Linked DNA regions of Homo sapiens. The protein of the gene in region 1 purifies or fractionates together with the protein of each later gene. This does not show direct contact. Each region holds a gene or a part of one and is shown in the gene's direction. Other genes may lie near its edges.

Region 1 (16,226 bases):
ACAAAAATTGTATTTTCTTTACTAGGCAAGTGAACCATTTTGTTGGGAAGAGTACCTTGGCTTCGAGAAAAAAATGATTTCATTCTGAAAGGCTTCCCCTCCAACCCCCTCCTGCACAAACTCTCAGCCCAGTAACTTGTCAGTATTCTGGAAAAGTGCATTACAAAACAAAAACTCGAATCAGATAAAATATATCTCTGGAACTTTTGAGGCAGATCAATGAAGCTCTGATTTCAGGTGCTAGCAAAATAAAGCAGGCACTCTCATTTTGTATTGTTTTACTTCTCAGTTTTTCATGGTGTCTCCTAAACTTTGATGTTTTGAAGAAGTTCTAATGTTTGCTACATCAGCAGGAGCTGACCACAGGGAAGAGATAAATATAGCTCTCCTTGGAAAGGTGAAGGCTTAGCCACCAGAATTCTGCCCCTTGATGCTGAGAATGCACCTTCTCCGAACAGATGGAAAAGAGGGGTGGAGATTACCCCAGGGACATATCTTGCAAAATGCTGATACCCGAAGATGTACATAGCCTTGTGCTTTGGTCATCCTCCCAAATCATGTCCTTGGTGAAGGCACATGGAGAGGAGAGCAGATGCTGCCAGACCACGGTGCCTGACGCCATGCACTCCCTCACGTCCAGCCTGTTTATGTGCACACGGCTGCAGCGGGACCTTGGGGTGTGGGCTAAATAACAAGAACAGGGGCTCCTCTGGGGTCTGTTACAAGGCAGAGATGCTCCACGGTAATTAGGGATTTAGGGGAAGAGGAAGGAACACACATGTTGATAATAAGTAGTTCAACATTATTATCCCCATTTTACAGATGCAGCTACTGAGCTTAGAGAGGTTTCATAACTTGCCCAGAGCCCCTCAACTAGTAAACAGTGGAGCCGAGATTTGAACGACCCAAAGAGGAAAGCAAACAAGCAGCCCCTTTATTACTTTTTTTTTTTTTTAAGATGAGGGTCTTGCTATGTTGCCCAGGCTGATATTGAATTCCTGGCCACAAGTGATTCACCACCTTGGCCCCACGAAGTACTGGGATTACAGTCATGAGCTACCACACTGGGCCAAAGCCCTCGTATTGTAACCTCCAAGATGTTTTCATTTCTAAAGTCAAAGGTTGTCAGAGTTGCTGTTTTGCAGGGAGCCATGGGATGGGGAGTCTCCGGGAAACCCAGGCTGGCTCCTTAAATGGCATCACCCAAGTTGGCCATCAAGCTTCCCCAGACTCAGTCACTCGGCCCCCTCTTTCCCTGGCTGTAGAGCAGGGGTTTGGACTCGAGGCTGCTGAGTTCCTCTCCAGCTTCCATGCCCAGTGGCAGTGACTTATCAACTGGCCCACCCGGTGGATGTAGGGGTGATGCAGCCCTGCTCTGTCCTCTTGAGTGCTGGGTGGCCATGAGAGAGGGAGGCCATGAGAGGGAGGGGAGGGTTCTCATCTGCTTAGTGCCACCCCCTCCCCAGCCCACCCCAGGTCCTCTGCCGCCTTGGGTTCCTGCGTGAGCAGTCCTTCTCACTCTGGGCGATGTTCGCTTTCACCAGCCCAACCCCAAGAAGTCCACCCTGGGGAGGACAGAGGGAGTCTCCACGGCTCCACACCCCCATGCTTTGTCGGAGATCTGGCCAGGCAGAGTGGTGCCCTCTTGACTGAGCCTCGAGCCTTTGCTTTCCCCTTACTCCACATAAAGCCGCAGCCCTGGCGAGGGAGCCCAGAGGCCTGAGGACAGCCTGCTGGGTGCCTGGCACTCTCTAGATCCTCCCTGCCTGGGCGGTGGGCATCTGCAATTCTCCCTGTCTCGAACTGCAGCAGAATGTGTGGGCAGGGTTAGGCAGATAGAGAGTGGGTGCCTGGACTCATTGGTCAGACTCTAAGACCGCCCACCCCCGCCGCCCCCGCAGTCCTTCCCAGGACTGGCTGACCCACCAGATAGGGGAGGGTGTTGTTTCTTATTATTACATTTTTTGAGAAAAGCTATGCAGGCCTGGGAGACGTCTGTGCCCTAGGAGTCCCTTCTGGCCTGAAGACTCAAGGCTGCAAACAGGTGCTGAGAGGGAACAAGAAGGGGAGTTGGGGTGCAACACACCCAGTGACAGACCAGGAGTGAGTGCTGTGGCCACAGATTCTAATCCTCACAACTGCAGTGTGATTTAGGCTAAGCCCCTTGCCTACTCCGATTCTTGCCTTAAATAAGTGAAAAGGAAAGTCAAGTTTGATGAGTTGTGGCTCTTTAGTGGGTGGATTTGCATGTACCATGGATTACATTTACCAGGGTCTAGGAATTGTCAAGCGCCCAGCAGGCTGCCATCAGGCCTCCGAGCTCCTTCGCCAGGCGGCTTTATTTGGAGTAAGAGGAAAGCAAAGGTTTGAGGCTCAGTCAAGAGGGCGCCACTCTGCCTGGCCAGCTCTCCGACAAAGCAGACGGGGGGGTGTGGAGCCGTGGTGACCCCCTCCGTCCTCCCCAGGGTGGGCTCCTTGGGCTTGGGCTGGTGGAAGTGAATATTGCCTGCAGCAAGAAGAAGGACTGTTCATGTGGGAGCGCAAGGCGGCAGCGGGGTTGGAAACCCACCCCCACACAGTCAACACCTGCTGTCACACCAGGCTAATCAAGAACACTTTTCTTTGGTGCATTAACCACCTGCTATTAAATAAAGGGCTGTTACTAGGTGGCAAAGTAACACACTGCAGTAGAGCCTATTTGTAATCTGAGATCAGTGGCTGTAAGGCACCATCCTTGAGCCAAGCAAGTACTAATATTCTTGTTATCTTAATTAGAATGCAAGAGATCGTGTTTTTAAAATTCTCTTTGAATCTGTCACTTTGCCCTCCTCTTCCTGGGTGATACACCTGGTAGTGCTGGTGGGGGCCATCATAATGCCCCTTGTCCCAGATTCCCTTCTTTTAGATGGGACTCGAGCACTGATCATTTCAGCCCTGTATCTCTCAGGTCAGCGTGGTTCAGTTTGCTGTGCAGAGTCCAGGGGAGATAACCACGCTGTGCACACATGAGATTGGCTGACTTGGCAGGACTGTGCAATTGTCAGAAGGCCGTGGGGAGTGGGGGCCAGTGCCTGCAGCCTGCCCTGCCTCTCTCACAGGCCCTTAGAGCATCGCCAGGTGCAGAGCTCCACAGCTCTCTTTCCCAAGGAGTAATCAGAGGGTGAGAACGTGGAGCCTGGTGGACAGGTGAAAGCACTGGGATCTTTCTGCCCAGAAAGGGGAAAGTTGCACATTTATATCCTAGAGGGAAGCGACAGCAGTGCTTCTCCCTGTGCTGAGGTACAGGTAAGGAGGGTGGTTTGTAAAGTTCACTGGGGAGGGTGATCCCTCTTTATTGTTCTAATATTATGCTCGCAGCCTCCTTGACAACATCATGCAAAATGTGTCTTACTAGCTTCTAGTGCATAAAATATTGGTGGAGCTCTTCGCTGTGCTGGGCCAGTCACCAGTGCTGGGCACTGTGGGTCAAGGCAGTGCCCAGGACGGGCACAGCCCTGCCTTCCCAAGCTATGGTTTATTGTGGTAGGATCTGCCTGCCCAGTGAAGTGTGTTCAGCTGCTCCTGTTGCTGGGGGAAGCTCTGCTCTCTGCCTTCGGCTGCCTCCCACACGCTCCCATGTGTCTCCCAGTCCCTAACCCCTAGTCCTGCTTTCAATACCGCAGGGGCTTTTAGCTGACTTTTCTCCATCTTCTTAAAGGGCAGGATTTCCTGGCAGAGACATAACGTCTTTCTGGAAATGAAAGAAGCTGATGCATGTTTTTTCTTTTCTGAATTACTTAAATAAGAGGAACTCATTTCCAGGTATTCCCTGCCTTGTTTTTATTGTGGGAGTGTGGTCCCAGCTGCCCATCTGATCAGCTGACATAGGGTCCTTGGGGCCCAGGCACTGTTACTGCTTGGGATTGAAAGATGAAAGCCACAGGGCCAGGCACAGCAGCTCGTGCCTCTAATCTCATCACTTTGGAAAGCCGAGGTGGGCGGATCGCTGGAGGTCAGGAGTTTGAGACCAGCCTGGCCAACATGGTGAAACGCTGTCTTTACTAAAAATACAAAAATTAGCAGGAGGTGGTGGTATGCACCTGTAATCACAGCTACTCAGGAGTCTGAGGCACGAGAATCTCTTGAACCCAGGGACAGAAGTTGCAGTGAGCCGAGATCGCACCACTGCACTCTTTGAGACTCTGTCTCAAAAAAAAAAAAAAAAAAAAAAGGGAAAGCAATGGCCTGGCTTGGCTGGAGATGGAACATGCATCAACGTGTCCCACGTGTCTCCAGCAGGGATAGCGAAGGCCTGCCCCCTGGCACATGGTAGACTGAGTAAATGTTGATCAGTGAGACCTTGAGGCACTTTAGAGTTTCACAATCCAGAGAGGGAGATAGATTGGAAGTTCAAGGGTGGACACCTGGGCATGATTCCCAGGACGAAGGCTGCAGTCGGTTCTAAGAAGTATGCTGGTGACTATGAGAGAAGAGGTTGTGGGTTTCCTCTCTTGAAAGCTGTCTCCATAATCACATGTGGGGTGATAAGGGCTCTGGTCCAGGGGAGGGGGCGAGGCACACAGGGGGCTGAATCTGATGGCATGAGGACTTGGTGATGGGCTGTGGGGAAAGAATTGGAGATGACTCTAGGGCCTGAGGGTGGGAAGCTGGGAGTTCACTGGGATCACTGATAGAAACGCGGAGGTGGGGGGTGCCAAGCTGATTTTCCTGATTAGATTTCCTACAGAACTGCAGGAATAAGGCGAGAGCCATCGCCCTGGGTGGATTTCTGTTTGGAGCTCTATCGCTGGACCACTGTGGACAAGTATTTCATAGAACGACCCCCAGTAGCCCAATTCTAGGTTTAGAGGGGCAGCTCTTGACAGGAGCAAACTCCAGGGCCTCTGCAACCCCCCAGCAGAGTCCCAAACATCTGACATGTAGCCAATGGAGGACATGCAAGTGGTGGGGTTCCCAGCAGGGACCACCTCCTGCCTTGGGTTTCCAAGACAGAGCGAGGGGCGCTGCTGGGGCGTGGTTTGCAGGGGCCTTGTCAGAACTCGATGCTTTCTCCTCCGTCTGGGTCCTAACTGCAGTGCATCTAGAGACCCTCCTCTGACTCAGGCATAAGGACGGCCCGCATATTCATGCAGGTTACTCTGAACAAGAACAGTCTATGGGTTACTTCCCTAGGAATGAGGAAGATGAAGAGCTAGATAACAATGCTGGGCTGGTATCTGCCTGATAGTGCTTTGCCAAGACTATGGTTTCTTCCTCTTCTGATCAAAAAAGACACAGGAGTCAGACAAATGGGGATTAAAAGACAACTGAGTTGATGTGAAATGTAACAGGCAACACTATGGACACAGAAAGTAGATTAGAGGCTGCTTAGGACCTAACGTGGAGGGCAGTAGGGGAGCGACAGCTGAAGGGTATGGAGTTTCTCCGTGCCGATGAAAATGTTCTACAGTTGACTGTGGCTATGGCTGCACATGTCTGTGAATATCCTAGAAACCACTGGAGGGTTCACTTTAAATGGGCGAATTGTATGGTATATGAATTATGTTTCAATAAAGCTCTTACACAGCTAAGCTGTGTGGCCATGGCTGGGCTTCCTAGCAGTGTCCCCCAACCCCAAATTGAACTTACTCTCCCAGCACTTGGGCCTCCCCATTACCCCGTCTGCCCTGAGGATAAGCCTCTCTCCAAGAAGGACAGAGCAGGGGCTGTGGGCCACCATTCAGGAAAGGTGCTCCTCTCCCCTGGGGGAGGGAACCCAGAGGTCATGGACAGAAGCCTTCTCAGACATGCAAAAAACATGAGGCTGTCGGGCGCCGTGGCTCACACCTGTAATCCCAGCACTTTGGGAGGCCGAGGCGGGCGGATCACGAGGTCAAGAGATTGAGACCATCCTGGCTAACATGGTGAAACCCCATCTCTACTAAAAATACAAAAATTAGCTGGGTGTGGTGGCACGTGCCTGTAGTCCCAGCTACTCGGGAGGCTGAGGCAGGAGAATGGTGGGAACCTGGGAGGCAAAGGTTGCAATGAGCTGAGATTGTGCCACTGCACTCCAGCCTGGTGACACAGTGAAACTCCATCTCAAAAAAAAAAACAACATGAGGCCTCAGAAATGTAGCTCCCAAAACCCCCTACCCAGGGCTGTGCAGAAGCCAAACCAGGTTCCTATTTTCCCAGGATGATGAACAGTTTTCAAAGCTTAGTAGGATTGTGGGTGATTTTGTCTCATTGTCTGTTGTTTTTCCATTTTTCTAGATCATATATATATAATATTTATACTATATATAATATGTATATAGTGTGTGTATATATATATATAATATGTATATATTAGGTCAAGTGTAAATAAAATCAGGGACAGGGTTGGAGCGCAGCAGGAAAGAGCCTGCTGGGGATCAGAGTCTCTGGGCTGTCAGGGCCGGGCTGGGCGGGCTCCGTTGTTAATGGCTTCCCCTCATCTTGCAGGAGCCATGTGGCTAGAAATCCTCCTCACTTCAGTGCTGGGCTTTGCCATCTACTGGTTCATCTCCCGGGACAAAGAGGAAACTTTGCCACTTGAAGATGGGTGGTGGGGGCCAGGCACGAGGTCCGCAGCCAGGGAGGACGACAGCATCCGCCCTTTCAAGGTGGAAACGTCAGATGAGGAGATCCACGTAAGGCACCTTGGGCCGGGCCGGGCTGGGCAGTGGAGAGGGTGGTGTGTCGAAGACAGGGGTTGGGTCTTAGGCCAGATGCGGGAGGGGACGGGGGCTTGGGAATGGTCCATCCTACTTGGGAGTGTGTTTCAGTCTGCTTTTCCTCTGCTGGGCAGGTGCAGGTTGCTTTGGAGAGGGATGCCCAGCCCTCCCACTTTCTCTCTTCTCCTTTCCCTACCCAAGGCCCAGCAGTGCTCAGGCAGGAGATGGGGTAACCTGTATCAAAGGTCACAGAAAGCAGCTGTCATCACCTCCTCTATGCCCTGCCTGAAGCCTTGGGAGTGAGGTTGTGGGAGAAAGTGAGCAGGTTCCCGTCAGAGACCCAGGAAGCACTGAGAAGGCAGGGATGCTACTGGTTAGGCACCGGCTGTGTGTCAGCCATTCCTGGTCACATTCAATCCCTACGGTGATCCCGCGGGGTGAGGATTGTTGTTCCCAAACTGCAGATGCAGAAGCTGAAGCTCAGGGGCATAAAGCAACTCGTTCAAGGCGGCCTAGCTAACATGCGGAAGGATTTGAAGTCCAATCTAATCCTGAAGCTGCTGCCCCTCCTCTGCACAGGGATAGAGTCAGGAAGGAGGTGACTGGGCAGGTGGGGTGAACTGAGAATGCATTCTCGGGGAGGAGCAAGGCTTGAGTGGGGGACAGGACGGTAGGCAGGCCTGGCATGGCCCTGCCAATCCTTTCTTTCATTCCGTGGGTTTTGAGCACCTACTGTGTGCAGGCCCAGTGAGTGCTTGGGAGAAGAGACAGCCCCTTCCGTCCAACAGCATACAGTCCAGTGAATGAGAAAAGGAATGTGCACAAAGAAAAGTAGACTAAAAGATAAATAAAGATAGGCTAGGTGCGGTGGCTCACGCTTTTAATCCCAGCACTTTAGGAGGCTGAGGCGGTGGATCACCTGAGGTCAGGAGTTCAAGACCAGCCTGGCCAACATCGTGAAACCCCGTCTCTACTAAAAATACAAAAAATTAGCCGGGCATAGTGGCGGGCACCTATAATAATCCCAGCTACTCGGGAGGCTGAGGCAGGAGAATCCCTTGAACCCAGGAGGCAGAGGCTGCAGTGAGCCAAGATCACACCACTGCACTCTAGCCTGGGCAACAAGAGTGAAATGCCATCTCAAAAAAAGAAACAGATGCATAAGGATAAATGTCACAAAAAGCATGGATAAAAGTCATGAGAGTTCCAAGGAGGAAGAGATTTAAAAGCAGAAGCTGGGCTAAACCCAAGAGCAACCAGGCTGAGGCTCCCTGGGTAGGACTTGCTTGCTGCAGCCTTGCTATTTAGGGCCAAGGCTGAGCCCTAAGGAAAGCTCCTTTAGGGAATTAGACTCCTAAGGGAGTCTGAGATTTCCAAAATCTGTTTGGGGGTAACTGAAACACTTGGGAAGAAGCCTGGGAATGGTGATGCTTGAGAGGCTCTCTAAGCTGACATGAACTTCCTCCCTCTGGGGCTGGCCTTTTAGCCTAATACATGCCAATGAGACTTGCACCCTCTCTCCTGGTCTGTAAATTTTTTAGTTTTTGGAGACAGGGTCTTGCTCTGTCACCAGGCTGGGGTGCAGTGGTGCGATCTTGGCTCACTGCAACCTCCGCCTCCTGGGTTCAAGCGATTCTCCTGCCTCAGCCTCCCAAGTAGCTGGCATTACAGGCACCTGTCACCATGCCTGGCTAATTTTTGTATTTTTAGTAGAGATGGGGTTTCGCCATGTTGGCCAGGCTGGTCTCGAACTCCTGACTTCAAGTGATCCACCTGCCTTGGCCTCCCAAAGCACTGGGATTACAGGCGTGAACCACCGTGCTGGGCCTGGCCTGTAATTTTTATCCCAACTCAGTTATAATGTATCATTCAATGTTGTATATCAGGGGTCAGGAAACCAGGCCCATAGACCAAATGTAGCCTGCTACCTGTTTTAGCACAGCGCCCATGCCAAGAATAGTGTTTACCTCTTTAAATAGTTAGGGGGAAAAAAATCAAAAGAAGAATAATAGTTTGTGACGTGAAAATTATATAGCAGTCAGATTTCAGTGTCCATAAATTTTTATTGGAACACAGCCACCCCCATTCATCTGTGCATTGGCTATGGCTGTCCATAAATAAAGTTTTATTGGAACACAGCCACCCCCATTCATCTGTGCATTGGCTGTGGCTGCTTTCACACTATGAAGACAGTGGAGTCACTGCAGCCTGCAAAGCCTAGAATATTTACTATCTGGCCCTTTACAGAAAAAGTTTGCCGACTCCCGCTGTAGAGACGCCTGGGTAAATTAAAGATGAGTATCGTGTATACACTTAAAGAGTAAAAGATGAGCTGGGCGCAGTGGCTTACACCTGTAATCCCACCACTTTGGGAGGCCAAGGCAGACAGATCACTTGAAGCCAGGAGTTCAAGACCAGCCTGGCCAACATGGCAAAACCCCGTCTCTACTAAAAATGCAAAAATTAGCCGGACATGGTGGCTCACACCTGTAATCCCAGCTACTCTGGGAGCTGAGGCATGACTGGCTTGAACCTGGGAGGTGGGGGTTGCAGTGGGCCGAGATCACGCCACTGCCCTCCAGCCTGGGCAACAGAGTGAGACCCTATCTCAAAAAAAAAAAAAGAAAAAAGAAAAAAGAAATGCGAAGTCTACAGTGAAGAAGGAAGAAGTGAAGAACACATCCGCTTTGGGAGTAGCCAGTGATGTGGGAAACTGCCTTGCCACTCCCAGAGGGCAGTATCTTGTGGCTGCAGGGTTTGCTGTGTTTTCTGGAAACAGACTTTGCTCTTGTGCTCTGTCCTTCCCATCCCTCTCAACTTGGGGTCCTGAATTTTGCTCCAGGACTTACACCAGAGGATCGATAAGTTCCGTTTCACCCCACCTTTGGAGGACAGCTGCTTCCACTATGGCTTCAACTCCAACTACCTGAAGAAAGTCATCTCCTACTGGCGGAATGAATTTGACTGGAAGAAGCAGGTGGAGATTCTCAACAGATACCCTCACTTCAAGACTAAGATTGAAGGTATGTTTGCAAAACGCCAGCCAGAGAGGGATGTATGTCATGAGAACAGCCTTCTTCCACAATGTGACTTACAGTCAGATAAAGTTGGAGAGATTCAGAACCCAATTATAGGTGACTGAGATGTACTTATACGTTGTAACCTTACTAAATGCAAAAATATTGCAGTCACAACAAATCTGTCCATCTTTAGAGCTAGGCAGGAACACATACATGCAATTTAAAAACCAAAGAAATGCACCATCCAGTCCAATGATGTGGCAATCTTTGAGAGGAAGGATGGAGATGAGATTTAGACCCAGGCCAAGTGGGGTGGCTCAGAACTGTAATCCCAGCACTTTGGGAGGCTGAGGTGGGTAGATCACGAGGTCAAGAGTTCAAGCAGCCTGGCCAAGATGGTGAAATCCCATCTCTACTAGAAATACAAAAAATAGCCAGGTGTGTTGGCAGGCAGCTGTAATCCCAGCTACTCTGGAGGCTGAAGCAGAGAATTGCTTGAAGCCAGGAGGCGGAGGTTGCAGTGAGCCAAGATCGCGCCACTGCACTCCAGCCTGGGCTCCATCTCAAAGAAAGAAAAGACTCTGCTCTCAGTTCTTTTGGATCTATACTCAGAAGTGGACTTGTTGGATCATACGGTAATTCTGCGTTTAATTTTCTGAGGAACCGCCATACTGCGTTCCGCAGCAGCTGCACCATTTTACTTTCCCACCCAACAATGCCTCAGAATCCCGATTCTCCAAATCCTTGCCAATATTTTTTTCCTTTCTTTTTTTCGGTAATGGTCATCCTAATGGGTATGAAATGGTATCACATTGTGGTTTTGAGTTGCATTTTCCTAATGATTACTGATGTTGAGCATTTTTTATGCGGTACTTATTGGATTCTTTGTAATTTCTCCGAAGAAATGTCTGTTCATGTCTTTTGTCCATTTTTTGGGTGTTTTATTAGGGTTTAGGAGTTCTCTATATATTCTGAATAAAATCTCTTATATTTGCAAATGTTTTCTCCCACTCTGTGGGTTGCCATACAATTAATCTTTTTCAGAGACAAGGTCTTGCTGTGTTGCTCAGGCTGGAGTGCAGCGGCTATTCACAGGCGTGATCATGGCTCACCACAGCCTCGAACTCCTGGGCTCAAGCAATCCTCTCGCCTCAGACCTCCTGAATAGCTGGTACTATAGGCGAGCACCACTGTGCCCAGCTTGTTAATTTTTTATATTGAAGAAATTGTACATGTTAGGAATCTTATTTTTAATGTTTTAAGATAATTTGGCCTTTTCAAGGAACAGTGAAGATTTTAATTTGTTAAAATTCTAGGAATTACTTAAAGTGTATGAAAGACATGTTGGTCAGTCAGATAAACTAAAGTTCCTAAAAAAAGGAAATTGAAATTATAGTGTTAACTGGGTGTGGTGGCATGCACCTGTAGTCCCAGCTACTCAGGAGGCTGAGGCAGGAGGATTGCTTGAGCCCAGGAATTCAAGGCTGCAGTGAGCTACAAGGACACCACTGCACTGGGTGACAGATCAAGACCCCATCTCTTAAAAAAAGAGAGAGAGGCTGGGCACGGTGGCGCACGCCTGTAATCCCAGCACTTTGGGAGGCTGAGGCAGGTGGATCACGAGGTCAGGAGGTTGAGACCATCGTAGCTAACACGGTGAAATCCTGTCTCTAATAAAAATACAAAAAATTAGCCAGGTGTGGTGGCGGGTGCCTGTAGTCCCAGCTACTCGGGAGGATGAGGCAGGAGAATGGCGTGAACCCAGGAGATGGAGCTTGTGGTGAGCTGAGATCACACCACTGCACTCCAGCCTGGGCGACAGAATGAGACTCTGTCTTTAAAAAAAAAAAAAAAAAACAGGCTGGGCGCCGTGGCTCACGCCTGTAATCCCAGCACTTTGGGAGGTCAAGGCGGGCAGATCACAAGGTCAGGAGATCGAGACCATCCTGGTCTAACTTGGTGAAACCCCGTCTCTACTAAAAATACAAAAAATTAGCCGGGCGTGGTGGCAGGCGCCTGTGGTCCCAGCTACTTGGGAGGCTGAGGCAGAAGAATAGCGTGAACCCGGAAGGCGGAGCTTGCAGTGAGCCCAGATTGCGCCACTGCACTCCAGCCTGGGTGACAGGGCAAGACTCTGTCTCAAAAAAAAAAAAAAGAAAAAAAAAAAAAGCCGGGTGCGGTGGCTCACACCTGTAATCCTAGCACTGTGGGAGGCCGAGGCGGGTGGATCCCAAGGTCAAGAGATCGAGACCATCCTGGCCAACATGGTGAAACCCCGTCTCTACTAAAAATACAAAAATTAGCTGGGCATGGTGGCACGTGCCTGTAGTTCCAGCTACTCGGGAGGCTGAGGCAAAAGAATTGCTTGAACCAGGGAGGCGGAGGTTGCAGTGAGCCGAGATCGCGCCACTGCACTCCAGCCTGGCAACAGAGCAAGACTCCATCTCAAAAAAAAAGGGAGAAAGGAAGGATGGACGGAAACCTCGACTTGGAGGTGCCAGGGCAGCAAACATCCTTGTTCTGATGCAAGCAGGCCAGGCCTGTGGGAGAATGAGCCAGAGAAAAGCTAAGTCAAATCCCAGTGGTGTGTGTCCTGGAACTAGAGCCCATCCTGGAGCTCAGCCAAGAACACTAAAAAAAAAAAAAAAAAAAATCTGGAATGATTTTTTGGATCAAATTTGGACTTCTCTTGAGTGTTGCTGTATTCTTTACAGTAATTTGATATCTTCTATTATGAGCCTAACAAGAGGATCCAAGCCACTTAATCCCAGCCAAACTGCTGTATGCAATTACCATAGGTTCCTGTTTGGATTCCTGGCACGAAATTGCCTGGCTTCCTTGAGTTTGACTTGGATCCCTGTGTTGTCCCAGCTCTTCAGTGTCCATCCAGCAGAAACTAACAGGGCGCCTGCTGTACCCAGGCATTCTGCTGGGGCTGGGGACGCATAGAGAGGACAGGGTCCCTCCTTCACAGCTCATAGGCTCTTCAGGGGCAATTCCAGCACATAGTGGCGGTGTTCTGAAGGAGGAGGCTCTGGGAGCTTCATGAGCCCCACAATCTTCCTTTGAATGTGAGGGAAGGCTTCCTGGAGGAGGTGGCATCTAAGCTGAAATGAGTGGGACTTTGCCAGGTGTGTGGGGAAGGTGGTCCAAGAAAGGGGAACAGCATGTTCAAAGGCCCAGAGGCAGGAGGCAGTAAAGGGCCCTTTCCATCCTGGCAGCTGCCAGCCTTACCCCACTGGACCCTTTCAGGGTTCTTCATGAGACTGGGTTTTTTTTAGAGACAGGGTCTCACTCTGTCAGCCAGGCTGGAGTGCAGTGGTGTGATCACAGTTCATTGCAGCCTCAATTTCCTGAGCTCAAGCGATCCTCCCACCTCAGCCTCTCAAGTAGCTGGGACCACAGGTATGCACCACCACACTAGGCTTTTTTTTTTTTTTTTTTTTTTCTTGAGACGGAGTCTCGCTCTGTCACCCAGGCTGGAGTGCAGTGACGCAATCTCGACTCACTGCAAGCTCCGCCTCCCAGGTTCACGCCATTCTCCTGCCTCAGCCTCCCGAGTAGCTGGGACTACAGGCGCCCGCCACCATGCCCAGCTAATTTTTTGTATTTTTAGTAGAGACGGGGTTTCACCGTGTTAGCCAGGATGATCTTGATCGCCTGACCTCGTGATCCACCTGCCTCAGCCTCCCAAAGTGCTGGGATTACAGGTATGAGCCACGGCACCCGGCCTTTGTTTTTTCTTTCCTTTTTTTTTTTTTTTACATTTTTAGTAGAGACAAGGTCTCACCATGTCACCCAGGCTGATCGCAAACTCCTGGGCTCAAGCAATTCTCCCACCTTGGCTTCCCAAAGTATCAGGATTATAGGTGTGAGCCACCACACCCAGCTGACATTGGGCATTTATGGTACAAAACCTCCCTCAGGTACAACGGCTCCAAAAGAGCCAGTTTCCAGCATTGAATTCATCGTGGACTTACCCATGTGTGGTTCTGGCACCCTGCCCGGGGCTGGAGGCCTGTTCTTGGCCTTGGTCCTTTAGAATAGGAGTAAATTTGGCAACATAGGAGGACACCCAGGATACATTGTTAAGTTAAAAAAAAAGAGATTCTAAAATAGAATGTATGTATGGTTCTATTTTTGTTAAAAGTTATGTTCTCTAAGTCTTTTTAAAAAGTTTGAACTGTCACAGCCAAGAAGGGTCTAAAGAGACATGACAGCTCAGTGGTGTGTGAGTCCTGGATGGGATCCTGGAACAGAAAATGGATATCAGGGGAAAAACTGAGGAAATCTGGCTCATATTTTGTTGTGTGTAGATACCAGCATTATCCAGGTTTTAAAAAGGAGAAAATCCTGGCCGGGTGTGGTGGCTCACGCCAGTAATCCCAACACTTTGAGAGGCCAAGGTGGGAGGATGGCTTGAGCCCAGTAGTTTGAGACCAGCCTGGGCAACATAGCGAGACCCCTTCTCTACAAAAAAAAATAACAAAAATAGGCTAGACATGGTGTTGCCCACCTGTAGTCCCAGCTACTTGAGAGGCTGAGGTGGGAGGATCACTTGAGCCTGGGAGGTTGAGGCTGCAGTGAGCCGTGATTGTGCCACTGCACTTCAGCCTGGGCAACACAGTGAGACCTCATCTCTAAAAGAAGAAGAAAAAAAAAGGAAATCCTGCAATGTGTGACAACATGAATAAACTCTGAGGAAATAATGCTAAGTGAAGTAAGCCAGGGACAGGACAAATACCGCATGATTCCACCTATAGAAGGAATCTGAAATAGTCAAACTCAGCAGAAGCAGAGAGGAGAAGGGTGGTTGTCAGGGGCTGGGGAATAGGGGAAACGGCATTGCTGATCGTTGCTGTGTAAAGTTTGAGTCCTGCCAGCCGAATACATCCTAGAGATGGGCTGTACAGCAGAGCGCCGTCAGTGTTGGACACTTACAATCTGTTAAAAGGGTAGGACCCATATTAAGTGTTCTCGCCATATAATAAAAAGTGTAAACACTAAGGAAATCAATGGACTTTATAGTTAATAATATCTCAGTCTGGTTCGTTAATTGTAATAAATGTACCATGCTAACATAAAATATTAATAATGGAGGAAACCCGGTGGGTGTGAGGTATATGGGAGTTTTCTGGATTCTTTGCAGTTTTTCAGCAATCTAAAACTGTTCCAAAATAAAGTTTAGACAGACAACACCATGTTTTCTTTAGAGAGTGGGATTACATGTGAGTCTTCCCCCTTTGGCTTATCTGTGTTTTCTAAGTTTTCTACAGTAAACATGTATTATTTGTATAATATATTAACGACAGAACAGAACATTAGCTAGACCATGCTGACTGCACCAGCCCTGGTGGCAGAGAGTTCCAAGCATGGCAGCCGCCCTCACTGTGAATGCCGTAAGGCCCCAGGTGCTGTCCAGGGCACTGGCCTGGGAAGGGGCTGCCTTCTTTTGATATGCAGAGGCCCCAAGTCAGTCCAGAGGAGACAAGAATCCATTCACCTGCCCTTGGCTATGATGATGTTTTCAGCATTGCACTTAAAAAAAAATCTTCCACTTTATTTTATTTTAATTTTTTGAGATGGAGTCTTGCTCTGTTGCCCAGGCTGGAGTGTGGTGGTGTGATCTCGGCTCAGTGCAACCTCTGCTTCCCAGGTTCAAGCGATTCTCTTGCCTCAGCCTCCCGAGTAGCTGGAATTGCAGGCGCCTGTCAGCATGCCCGGGTAATTTTTTTGTATTTTTAGTAGAGACGGGGTTTCACCATGTTGGCCAGGCTGGTCTTGAGCTCCTGACCTTAGGTGATCCACCCGCCTCAGCCTTCCAAAGTGCTGGGATTACAGGCGTGAGCCACCACACCAGGCCCAAAAATACTCCACTTTAAAGAAAATATCATTTGGTAATCAGAAAAAGGTGACATTTTGTCAATGTGTATGAAAAAAATTATGCATTTAATACCTGTTCATTGTAGAAAAATTGGAAAGTACATAAAACTCAAAGAGAAATTAAAAGCACTGGAATCTACTGCTCAGGAGAACTGCTTTTTACATTCTTGGAGTTTATCCTCCCAGACTTTTAAAATTCACCAATACATAGTATAAGTACAGTATAAGCATAGATGACTTTTTATAAAAACTGGGTCACACAATGGATATGACTTGATCATTTGCTTTTACCTCCCAGCAATATCTTCTGATCAGTTTTCTATGTTAAATAAATATACATCTACCTTGTCAGTTTAGATGACTGTACTGGACTCCAGTATACTGTCAAACTATACTTGATTAATCCTGTATTGCTGGATACGTGGGGCTTTCTCCCTACCCTCCAGATTTTAAATTATTGAACAAGTATTTATGGAGGCCTGCTGTGAGCCAGGAGCTGTCCTGAGCCCTGGAAACCCAGCAGTGGCTGTACAGACCTGGCCCAGCTGTCAGGGGGCACCTCTAAGGAAACCGGGAGGCAATAATCGTAGCTCCCTTGCAGGGAGGTTGTGAAGGCTGAGTGAGGACATCTGTGCACCTGGAGCAC
Region 2 (10,208 bases), on another chromosome or scaffold:
AATGTGACCATATGCTTTATTGTGCAAGCCAGAACACTTTTGTAGTGAAGAGACTGCTACGTAAGGAAAAATAGGATCATACCCAGATAGTCCCAGGCAAAGGTAGATGTATGGTCACCTACTCAGAAGCCACATTCATATTCCATCATTACCTCTTCCCTAATAAAAAGGAAACTAGTAATAGTCTGAATTCCTAAAGTGTGTAAATGATATTTTTGTGGAATAATTTAACGCTTTTCCCATAAAATTAATTTGGGCTATCAGGTAACATTGTAAAGACTAGAACATATGTATTTTTTGATGCTGTTATTACTAGAAGGGGAAGAGGGGGTGACATGAATATGTAAGTTTGTTAGGTAGCTTAACATCAGTTGATCATCAGGTCCTGTCAGTTCTATCTTAAATCTCCAGGAAGAAACTTAACTAAAAATCAGTATATAAGTTGGTTACATAATTCATCTATAACAATGTTTTAGTAAAGGTTCTTAAAGAGTTCCTCTGTATTTCCTAACCTACTCCTTAACCTACTGCTATCTGATTAACTTTTCTGCTGTCCTGAAACTGCTCTTGTAAGGTTTCCAATTACTTAATTGTTGATCACGAAATACTTTTCAGTCCTTATTTTAGGTGACACCTGGATAGGATTTGACATTGTTGTCCTCTCCTTACTTCCTGAAACCACCTGTATTAGTCTGTTTTCTGTTGCTTATAACAGAATACCCTAAACCAGATAATTTATTTTAAAAAAGGAATTTATTTCTTACCGTTACAGAGGCTGAGAAGTCCTAGTTTGAGAGACCACATCTGGTGAGGGCCTTCTTGCTGGTGGGGACTCTCCGAAGAGTCCCAAGACAGTGTAGGGCATCACATGATGAAGGGGCTGAGCATGCTAGCTCAGGTCTCTCTTCCTTCTCTTATAAAGCCACCAGTTCCACTCCATGATAACCCATTAATACATAAATGGATTCATTCATGAGGGCACAGCCTTCATGATCCAATTGTTAGTTGGCAGATCTGTGTCTGTACAGGTCTGCAGCAACCTCAATTCTTGCCTCCTGAAAGAAATAATTCAAGTAAAGGACATAATGCAGAAGGAGAAACTGAGGCAAGTTGTAGAGCAGGAGTTAAAATTTATTAAAAAGCTTTAGAGCAAGAATGAAAGGAAGGAAAAGAAGGAAAGTACACTTGGAAGAGGGCCAAGTGGGCAACTTGAAAGACAAGCCTGCGGTTTGACCTTTTGACTTGGGATTTCATACACTGGCATAATTTTGGGGTCTTGCATTACTTCTCCCCACTCACCCCACCCCTGAGATCGTATCAGGAAGCTGCTAATTACCAGGTGTTTTCTATTTATTAGGAGGCTGCCTTTTCCTAGCACTAGCTGTGACCAATAATTACTTTAGAGAGCGTTAACAACCGCCTGACCATCACCTAACAGTCTCTCCACACTCCCCATGTGAGGGGCAGGGGAGACCTCTCCTGCCCTGTTCATACCCAACTAGCTACCTAATGTAACACAGTCACTTCTTAAAGGTCCTACCTTTCAATATTTTAATAATATTAATTTAAATATTAATTTCCAAAAAATGAAATTTGGGGGACACATTCAAACCATGGCACCACCTCTTAGCTTCTGTGACATTTCTCTATCCTGGCTTTCCTCTTAACTCTAATGACTTATTCTTAAATTCTTTTGTGTATTCTTCCTTATCAGTTTATCCCTTGTTGGTTTTTCTATGAGGTTGGAGAGAGAGTGTGTGTGTGTGTGTGTGTGTGTGTGTGTGTGTGTTCACACGTGCATATGTGTGTTTTATCCTAGATTCTGAACTTTGTCCCATATTAGATGTATAGCCAACAATTTATTAGATAAATCCATGGTACTTGGATGAACCCAGGCTCCTCAGGTCTTTACACATTTGTCTCCCTTTTTACTGGAATGCTTTTCCTCTCTCCATCTTTCTTTTGCTCTCCCCTTTCTCCTTCCTCACTGTCTTTTATTCACTCTTCAAGGTTTTGCTCCAGTGTCACCTCCTCTGGAAAGCCTTCTCTCTCTCTCTGTTTTTTTTTTTTTTTTTGCAATGGAGTCTTGCTCTGTTGCCCTGGCTGGCATGCAGTGGCGTGATCTTGGTGCGCTGCAATCTCTGCCTTAAGGGTTCAAGCGATTCTCCTGCCTCAGTCTCCCAAGTAGCTGGGACTACAGACGCCAGCTACCACACCCGGCTAATTTTTGTATTTTTAGTAGAGACGGGGTTTCACCATACCGGCCAGGCTGATCTCTACCTGACCTCAGGTGGTCCACCCACCTCGGCCTCCCAAAGTGCTGGGATTTCCACCTCCTGGGTTCAAGCGATTCACATGCCTCAGCCTTCCAAGTAGCTGGGATTACAGGCACCCGCCACCATTCCTGGCTAATTTTTATAATTTTAGTAGAAGTGGGTTTTCGGCATGTTGGCTAGGCTGATCTCGAACGCCTGACCTCAGGTGATCCTGCCTCAGCCTCCCCAGTTGCTGGGGTTACAGATGTGAGCCACTGCACCTGGCCTGGAAAGGCTTCTCTCACTGTCCCTCACAACAATTTGGGTCAGAAGCTTTTCCTGTATACTCCCGTTTCCCTTTATCATTAGCCCTTAATATGGAGTGTCCTAACACTGTATTTACAGAGAGTTTACTTAACTCCCCTACTAGATTGTCTAGATTGTTAGGATTGTTTTTTTTTTTAATTTTTGTGGTTTTTTTTGTAAATGGAGTCTCGCTCTGTCACCCAGGCTCGAGGTCAGTGATGCAATCTTGGCTCACTGCAGCCTCCACCTCCAAGGTTCAAGTGATTCTCCTGCCTCAGCCTCCCAAGTAGCTGGGATTACAGTCGTGCACCACCACGCCCAGCTAATTTTTGTATTTTTAGTAGAGACAGGGTTTCACTGTGTTGACCAGGCTGGTCTCAAACTCCTGACCTTGGGTGACCCACCACCTCAGCCTCTCAAAGTGCTGGCATTACAAGTGTGAGCCACCATGCCCAGCCCAGTTTTTACGAATTTCTACTTTTTGAAAATGCTCTCCTAAAATATATTTTTAAAGGAATATAAGAAGAAAAGAAATACAAATTTTACTTTTTACTGGTTTAGTGCCATATTTTCATTGCTATTTTGAAAATAATATTACATGAAATTATTACCCATTACACTAAAAATTCTTTCCATGCTGGTAGTCATTGGAATTGGCACAATTCTGGAGCAACGTCTTCTCTACTAAAAAGATATTTTCATGTATCAAAATTCTTAATTTCTTGGCATTTAGTCTTTTTAGTCAAAATTCTCAAAAGAAGGATATTAGTAGTGATTAGGTCTACTCAGCATACTATGTTGAGTTTTGAAAAGTACTCTCTTTTCTCCAGATATTTTGAAAACTCTTTAAAGAGTCTTGCTATCAGGCCCAGTGCTGTGACTCACGTGCCTGTAATCCCAGCGCTTTGGGAGGCCAAGTTGGGAGGATTGCTTGAGCCCAAGAGTTCAAGACCAGCCTGGGTAACGATATAAGACCTCGTCTCTACAAAAAAATTTAAAAAGTTATCTGGGTATGGTGGTGCTACTCCCTGTAGTCCCAGCTGCTTGGGAGCCTGAGTTGGGAGGATTTCTTGAGCAAAGGAGTTTGAGGTTACAGTGAGCCAAGATTATGCCACTGTATTCTGGCCTGGGTGACAGAGCCAGACCCTGTCTCAGAAAAAAAAAAAAAAAAAAGTTTTGCTTTCAAACCACTACACATTTAACATTAAAATTGAGTTTTCATTGCTTTTTTGAAAATTAAAATTTTATGTAACATGAAATTATTATTTTCTATTTTAGTAGAGATGACAAATGAAGCTAAAGGTAATACAGGAAGAAAATGAAAACCAGAGTACCTAAAATGAAAGATATTTTAACGGCTAGAACTTTAAATATTATGTATCATTATACTTTTGCATATTATTTCTTATTTTTTTCATAAAGAAAAACGCACCTAAATATTTTCACTTTAAATATCTTTAGGGAATTACCAGGCACGGTGGCTCACACCAACAATCCCAGCACTTTGGGAGGCCAAGGCAGGCAGCTCACCTGAGGTCAGGAGTTAAGAGATCAGCCTGGCCAACATGGTGAAACCGCGTCGCTACTAAAAAAAATATAAAAATTAGCTGTGCCCACGTGGTGGCACATGCCTGTAATCTCAGCTACTTGGGAGGCTGAGGCAGGAGAATCGCTTGAACCTGGGAGGTAGAGGTTGTAGTGACCTGAGATCGCACCATTGCACCCCAGCCTGGGCAACAAGATCAAAACTCCGTCTCAAAAGTAAATAAATAAATAAAATAAAATAAATAAATAAATATCTTTAGGGAACAAAAGGTCATAGTTTTCCTTATTAAATTGTTCTACCACTTATCTATATTTGTTTAAATTTATTTCCTAAAATTTAATAAAAGCCATTAAATAGGAAGATTAGAGATAGAATCTTCCTATGTTGCCCAGACTGGAGTGCAGTGGCTTTTCACAGGTACAGTCATAGTGTGTTACAGCCTCCAACTCCTGGGCTCAAGGGATCCTTCTACTCTAGACTGCTGAGTAGCTGAGATTACAGGCATGGGCCACTTCGCCTGGCTTAGCCTACCACATATGAAAAAAAGTAATCTGGCTGAGTGCGGTGGCTCATGCCACTAATCCCAATATTTTGGGAGGCCAAGGTGGGAGAATTCCTCCCTCCCGCGGCAGGAGGATTGCTTTGAGAGTTGGAGGCGGGAAGTTCAAGACCAGCCTGGGCAACATAGGGAGACCCTGTCTCTACAAAAATAAAAAAATTAGGTGGGCATGGTGGTGCATACCTGTAGTCCTGGCTACTCAAGAGGCTGAGGCAGGAGGATCACTTGGGCCTCAAAGGTCGAGGCTGCACTGAGCCGTGATCGGACCACTGCGCTCCAGCCTGGATGTCAGAGTGAGACCCTGTCTCAAAAAAAAAATAAAAATAAAAATAAACAATAGTGCCTTTTCTAAGCTAACATTTTCTATTTTTCTGAAAGTATTTTATTTTCTGAGTTGTAGTCATTTGGTTCTCCCCTTAAGTTCATCATGATATGTAAACCCTTTTAAAGTGGTAGAATACTGAGTGGTCTATATAGAACGGAAGAATTTATAACAGGTTTATTGAGATAATTGTCTATCATCTTTTGTGTTTTTATTATCTTCTTTATGCATTTGACTCTTGTGCCTAGTTTTTTTAAAAAAAATGATTTACAGCGCTAATGGCTGTTTAACGTATAGGGTAGCATAAGTCTAAAGAATTCTATTTACAAGAATTAAAGAATAGCTTATATTATTTTTCATGATGTTATTGCTATATGCGTATATAGTGTGTGTGATTATCTTCTTACCAAGGTTTATATGAACCAAAAATTTCCAGTCATTCTTAAAAATGAGCCTCCCAAGCATTTTTCCCTTGTGTACAGTCTATTGTTAGCACATTTAATTGTATTGTCAGAAGTTTGAATCCCTTACTATAAGTAATAGTGTTATAAAACTTATACGTTAGAATTGTTTTTATTTTTTGATAGGAAATCTTACATGGTATGACAAATGTATTTAGTTTTAAACTTTTCTTGGATAACAATTCTTAAAGCACTGTACCTTTTTCTGCAGATTGATCCGACAGCTGATACAAGTTTTTTGGGCTGGGTTATTGCTTCATATAGTCTTGGCCAAATGGTAGCTTCACCTATATTTGGTTTATGGTCTAATTATAGACCAAGAAAAGAGCCTCTTATTGTCTCCATCTTGATTTCCGTGGCAGCCAACTGCCTCTATGCATATCTCCACATCCCAGCTTCTCATAATAAATACTACATGCTGGTTGCTCGTGGATTGTTGGGAATTGGAGCAGGTAAGGTTGTATGTATATGTTTGGTTGTGTCATATTCACATTCATTCTGACATTTATGGCTCACTTTTAACTGGTCTCATCCCCTTTTAAACTCATATTTCACAGTTCAACATACATGTTTCTCATTGTAAACAAATATTTTTCTTATCATTTTGCCTTTGCTCATGATGTTCTCATTACCTATAGTTTCTCTTCTGTTCTCATCATTCTTCATCCTTCAAGATTCAGTTTAAACCAGGTGTGGTGGCACGTGCCTATAATACCAGCTACTCAGGAGACTGAGGTAGCAGAATCTCTTGAGCCCAGGAGTTCGAGGCCAGCCTGGGTAACATAGGGAGACCTCCATCTAAAAAAAAAAAAACCCAAAACAAAAATAGATCCAATTCAAGCTCCACATTTTCCACAAAGCCATCTTGGGCTACCCTGCCCCTTGAGAGATTTTTTTCTTCTCTGACATGTCTCTGGCACTTGCTTATAGTATTGTACTGTTTCTATCCTTTCTCACTAACCAGATAATAATTTTTTTTTTTTTTTGAAACGGAGTCTTACTCTGTCACCCAGACTGGAATGCAGTGGCGCAATCTTGGCTCACTGCATCCTCTACCTGCCTGGGTTCAAGCAATTCTCCTGCCTCAGCCTCCCGAGTAGCTGGGATTACAGGCGTCTGCCACTGCACCTGGCTAATTTTTGTATTTTTAGTAGAGACGCAGTTTCACCATCTTGGCCAGGCTGGTCTTGAACTCCTGACCTCGTGATCCACTCGCCTCGGCCTCCCAAAGTGCTGGGATTACAGGCATGAGCCACCATTCCCAACCTAAACTTTTTGCAATTAGAAAGAATTAATGATACTTTAAAAATATCCTATGCCCCCTAACAGAGTCTCTTGAATGTAATGTACTCAATGAAAATTTTCAGTAAAATTGTTAGTGCATTTTTTTCTGTTTCTTATATTACATGTCTATGCATACAGAGTTTGTAATATTGTAATACTTTTCTTTTAAAAACAGTTGTAGTAATCAATGGTATGCCATTCACTCAGTGCTTTTTTAGTACTAAGTAAGTTTGATATTCTTTTTTTTTTTTTTTCACTGTTGCCCAGGCTAGAGTGCAGTGGCGTGATCTTGGCTCATTGCAACCTCAGCATCCTGGGTTCAAGCAGTTCTTCTGCCTCAGCCTCCTGAGTAGTTGGGACTACAGGTGGATAATTTTTGAATTTTTAATAGAGACGGGGTTTCACCGTGTTGGCCAGGCTGGTCTTGAACTCCTGACCTCAAAATGATCCACCTACCTCAACCTCTGAAAGTGCTGGGGTTACAGATGTGAGCCACTGTGCCCGGCTTGGTTTTCTTATGATACCATTTTTTCACTCATTGATATCTTTAACTGTTTTCATATTACCAAAACTAGTATGGTCCATTAATTGATGCATTTGCTTAATAAAAATACCTTACATGCTTTGTGTGATCATAAAGAGGAAGCAGTGACTGTACTGTTGACCAAGATTTCTTCTTCTGTATAAAGTCAAATTGGATTGAATTTTATAAGCTGAATGATACTTTCTTTTACTTTGGATTATTGTGTCTTGTTTTTAAGGAAATGTAGCAGTTGTTAGATCATATACTGCTGGTGCTACTTCCCTTCAGGAAAGAACAAGTTCCATGGCAAACATAAGCATGTGTCAAGCATTAGGTTTTATTCTAGGTCCAGGTAGGTGTTCTTCACATGTCATTACTTGAATTTGAATTGGGAAAACTTTTGAGGCTTAAATATTCAGTGTAACCCAAGTATAAAAACTCATAGCTGAAGGGAAAGGGAGGAAAGCTAATTTTTTTTTTAATCCAGGAATGAGGCTACACTCATTTTATCTTGATGCCAATCCACTAAATTAAGTGCTATTAGTCCCCTTTTATAGTTGAGAGTGCCAGTGCATAGAGAATCTAAGTAAATTGTCCAAGGTCACCCTTTTGCTGAGTGTTAAAAAAATTAGTGAGGCCATGCGTGGTGGTCCACACCTGTAATCTCAGCACTTTGGGGGTCTGTGGAAGGCAGATCACCTGAGGTCAGGAGTTTGAGACCAGCCTGGCCAACATGGTGAAACCCCATCTCTACTAAAAATACAAAAATTAGCCAGGTGTGGTGGCGGGCACCTGTAATCCCAGCTACTTGGGAGGCTGAGGCAGGGGAATCGCTTGAACTCGGAGGCAGAGGTTGCAGTGAGCTGAGATCACATCATTGCACTCCAGCTTGGGCAACAAGCGCGAGACTCTGTCTCAAAAAAAATTAATGAGATTTAGTATTTCCTCAAGGCAAATTAATTTTCTGCTGAGTAAAGAATCAGTCATTTTCATGCCTAGAATAATATTGAAAAACCATATAATTGGTCCATATTTTGAATATTGAAGTTATGAATATTATCAGTTTGAATCCAACTCAGCTTACTTCATCATTAACACCCCATCTCCCACCCCCAGTTTCCATTACGTTCCTCTATTTAGCCAAAAAGAAAAGGCTCAACAGAAGGGAATCTAATTCACTGTTCACCAAAATCTACTATTTCAGTTTTGTACCCTGAAACAAATACAAGCACAAATGTAGAATAATTGAACTTGAATACTATATTGTAAAGTACATGAGGACATGGTTTGAGTCTTTATTTACCAGTCTACCCTCAGTATCTAGCATAATACCTGGTATAGACTTATGTTCTTAGTAAATATTTTTTACCACCTTAAAAGCATTTTAAAGATTATGTCATTTAAAAATTTTGCATTATAGATGAGTAAATGTAAGCCTGAAAAGCTTCGATGACTTTTCCAATAATAAGCCCTCAACAAGCACTAACATTTATTGTGTGCTTACTGTATGCTAGTCACTGTTCTAAGTACGGTAGGTGCAATATTTTAGTCCTCACCCTAGAGTTATATGTGAATTACTATAGAGCCACATATTGAATCTAAATCAGAAGAGCAAACCAGTACTCTTCCAATTGAGTTTTTGCCACAGATCCAAATTAGATTTTGCCACTTCATATTTCTTTAGAGTGCTTTATCCAGCAGTCCAAAAACACTTCTAACTAATGTTTAAAATCACTAAAAAAAACTTCAAATACTAAGGTGGATTATGTATGCTTTTGGATGAAATAATTTTTTTTTTTCATTTTACTTGTATATAATACTATGGTCAAATGATAATAAATATATACACACACACACATATATATATATATATATATATACCATATACAGAATAATATTTAAGATATCTGGTCTAAAATATGATATTTTCATTCTTATAATGAAGCTGATTAAACCTTTATAATTAATTTTTGGAAGAAATTGTATAATTTAAATTGCCTATGGAGATGTTTTGTAAAAAACTGAGAAGTTATGTAAGATACAATTCCTTGTGAATGCATGTAAATCAGTGTTTCACAACCTTTTTTTCATTATTGTCTCCCTAAGGAGCCTTTTTCGGTATTTTTTTCCTACTCTCTTTACCCCATAAAATTTTAGTGCCACAGATGTGTCATATATCTTTTATGTACCATATGTATATCTGTACATACCTGCTTTATACATAAAAAGAGGAAATTTTTTGACCCCCCATCAAGAACCAATTCCATCTGTTGAGAATGCATGATATAGAAGGATGATTCCATAACATTGTTCCCAATTCTGTTGTAAATGTCTTTTTCATTTTTTTATCCTATGCTTCTCATATAATAATTCATCTGTGAAAATTTTATCTTAATAAGTTTTTCAGACTTGTTTTACATTCCTTGGAGAAAAAGGTGTGACATGGGATGTGATTAAACTGCAGATAAACATGTATACAACACCAGTTTTACTTAGCGCCTTCCTGGGAATTTTAAATATTATTCTGATCCTTGCCATACTAAGGTAATTAGATAGAAATGATAAAACTATTTTTGTAGATTGTGAAATTTAATGAGCTTTGTAATTGTTGGAAGATAATTATCCTTATGAAGTGTACGTAGTTTTTTATGTCTATAGTTTGTTTATATTTTTTGGTCAGGTAGTACTAAAGCATGTAATACTGGCAACCAAAAGACAACCTGATAAATGAGAACAGAAAAGGAAGGTCTTTGAAGATTCAAAGTTTTTTTTTTTTTTTTTTTTTTTTTTTTGAGACAAGATCTTACTCTGTTGCTCAGACTGGAGGGCAGTGGCACTATCTCGGCTCAATGCAACCTCCATCTCCCGGATTCAAGGATTCTCATACCTCAGCTTCCCGAGTAGCTGGGGCTACAGGTGCATGCCAACACATCCAGCTAATTTTTGTTTCAC

The links.
Region 2: the proteins of EPHX1 (region 1) and MFSD8 purify together in Homo sapiens (affinity purification with mass spectrometry; 3 studies listed by BioGRID and IntAct, with this or other methods). This does not show direct contact.

The regions. Positions count from the first base shown.
Region 1 is NC_000001.11:225,822,260-225,838,485, forward strand, and holds part of EPHX1 (epoxide hydrolase 1), read left to right. Parts: intron 1-1,951; exon of another isoform or gene 1,952-2,044; intron 2,045-3,094; exon of another isoform or gene 3,095-3,285; intron 3,286-6,465; 5' UTR 6,466-6,470; coding exon 6,471-6,653; intron 6,654-9,519; coding exon 9,520-9,700; intron 9,701-16,226. UniProt on the Homo sapiens protein: Biotransformation enzyme that catalyzes the hydrolysis of arene and aliphatic epoxides to less reactive and more water soluble dihydrodiols by the trans addition of water.
Region 2 is NC_000004.12:127,939,445-127,949,652, reverse strand, and holds part of MFSD8 (major facilitator superfamily domain-containing protein 8), read left to right. Parts: intron 1-5,660; coding exon 5,661-5,901; intron 5,902-7,494; coding exon 7,495-7,608; coding exon of another isoform or gene 7,609-7,614; intron 7,615-9,655; coding exon 9,656-9,800; intron 9,801-10,208. UniProt on the Homo sapiens protein: Outward-rectifying chloride channel involved in endolysosomal chloride homeostasis, membrane fusion and function. Conducts chloride currents up to hundreds of picoamperes.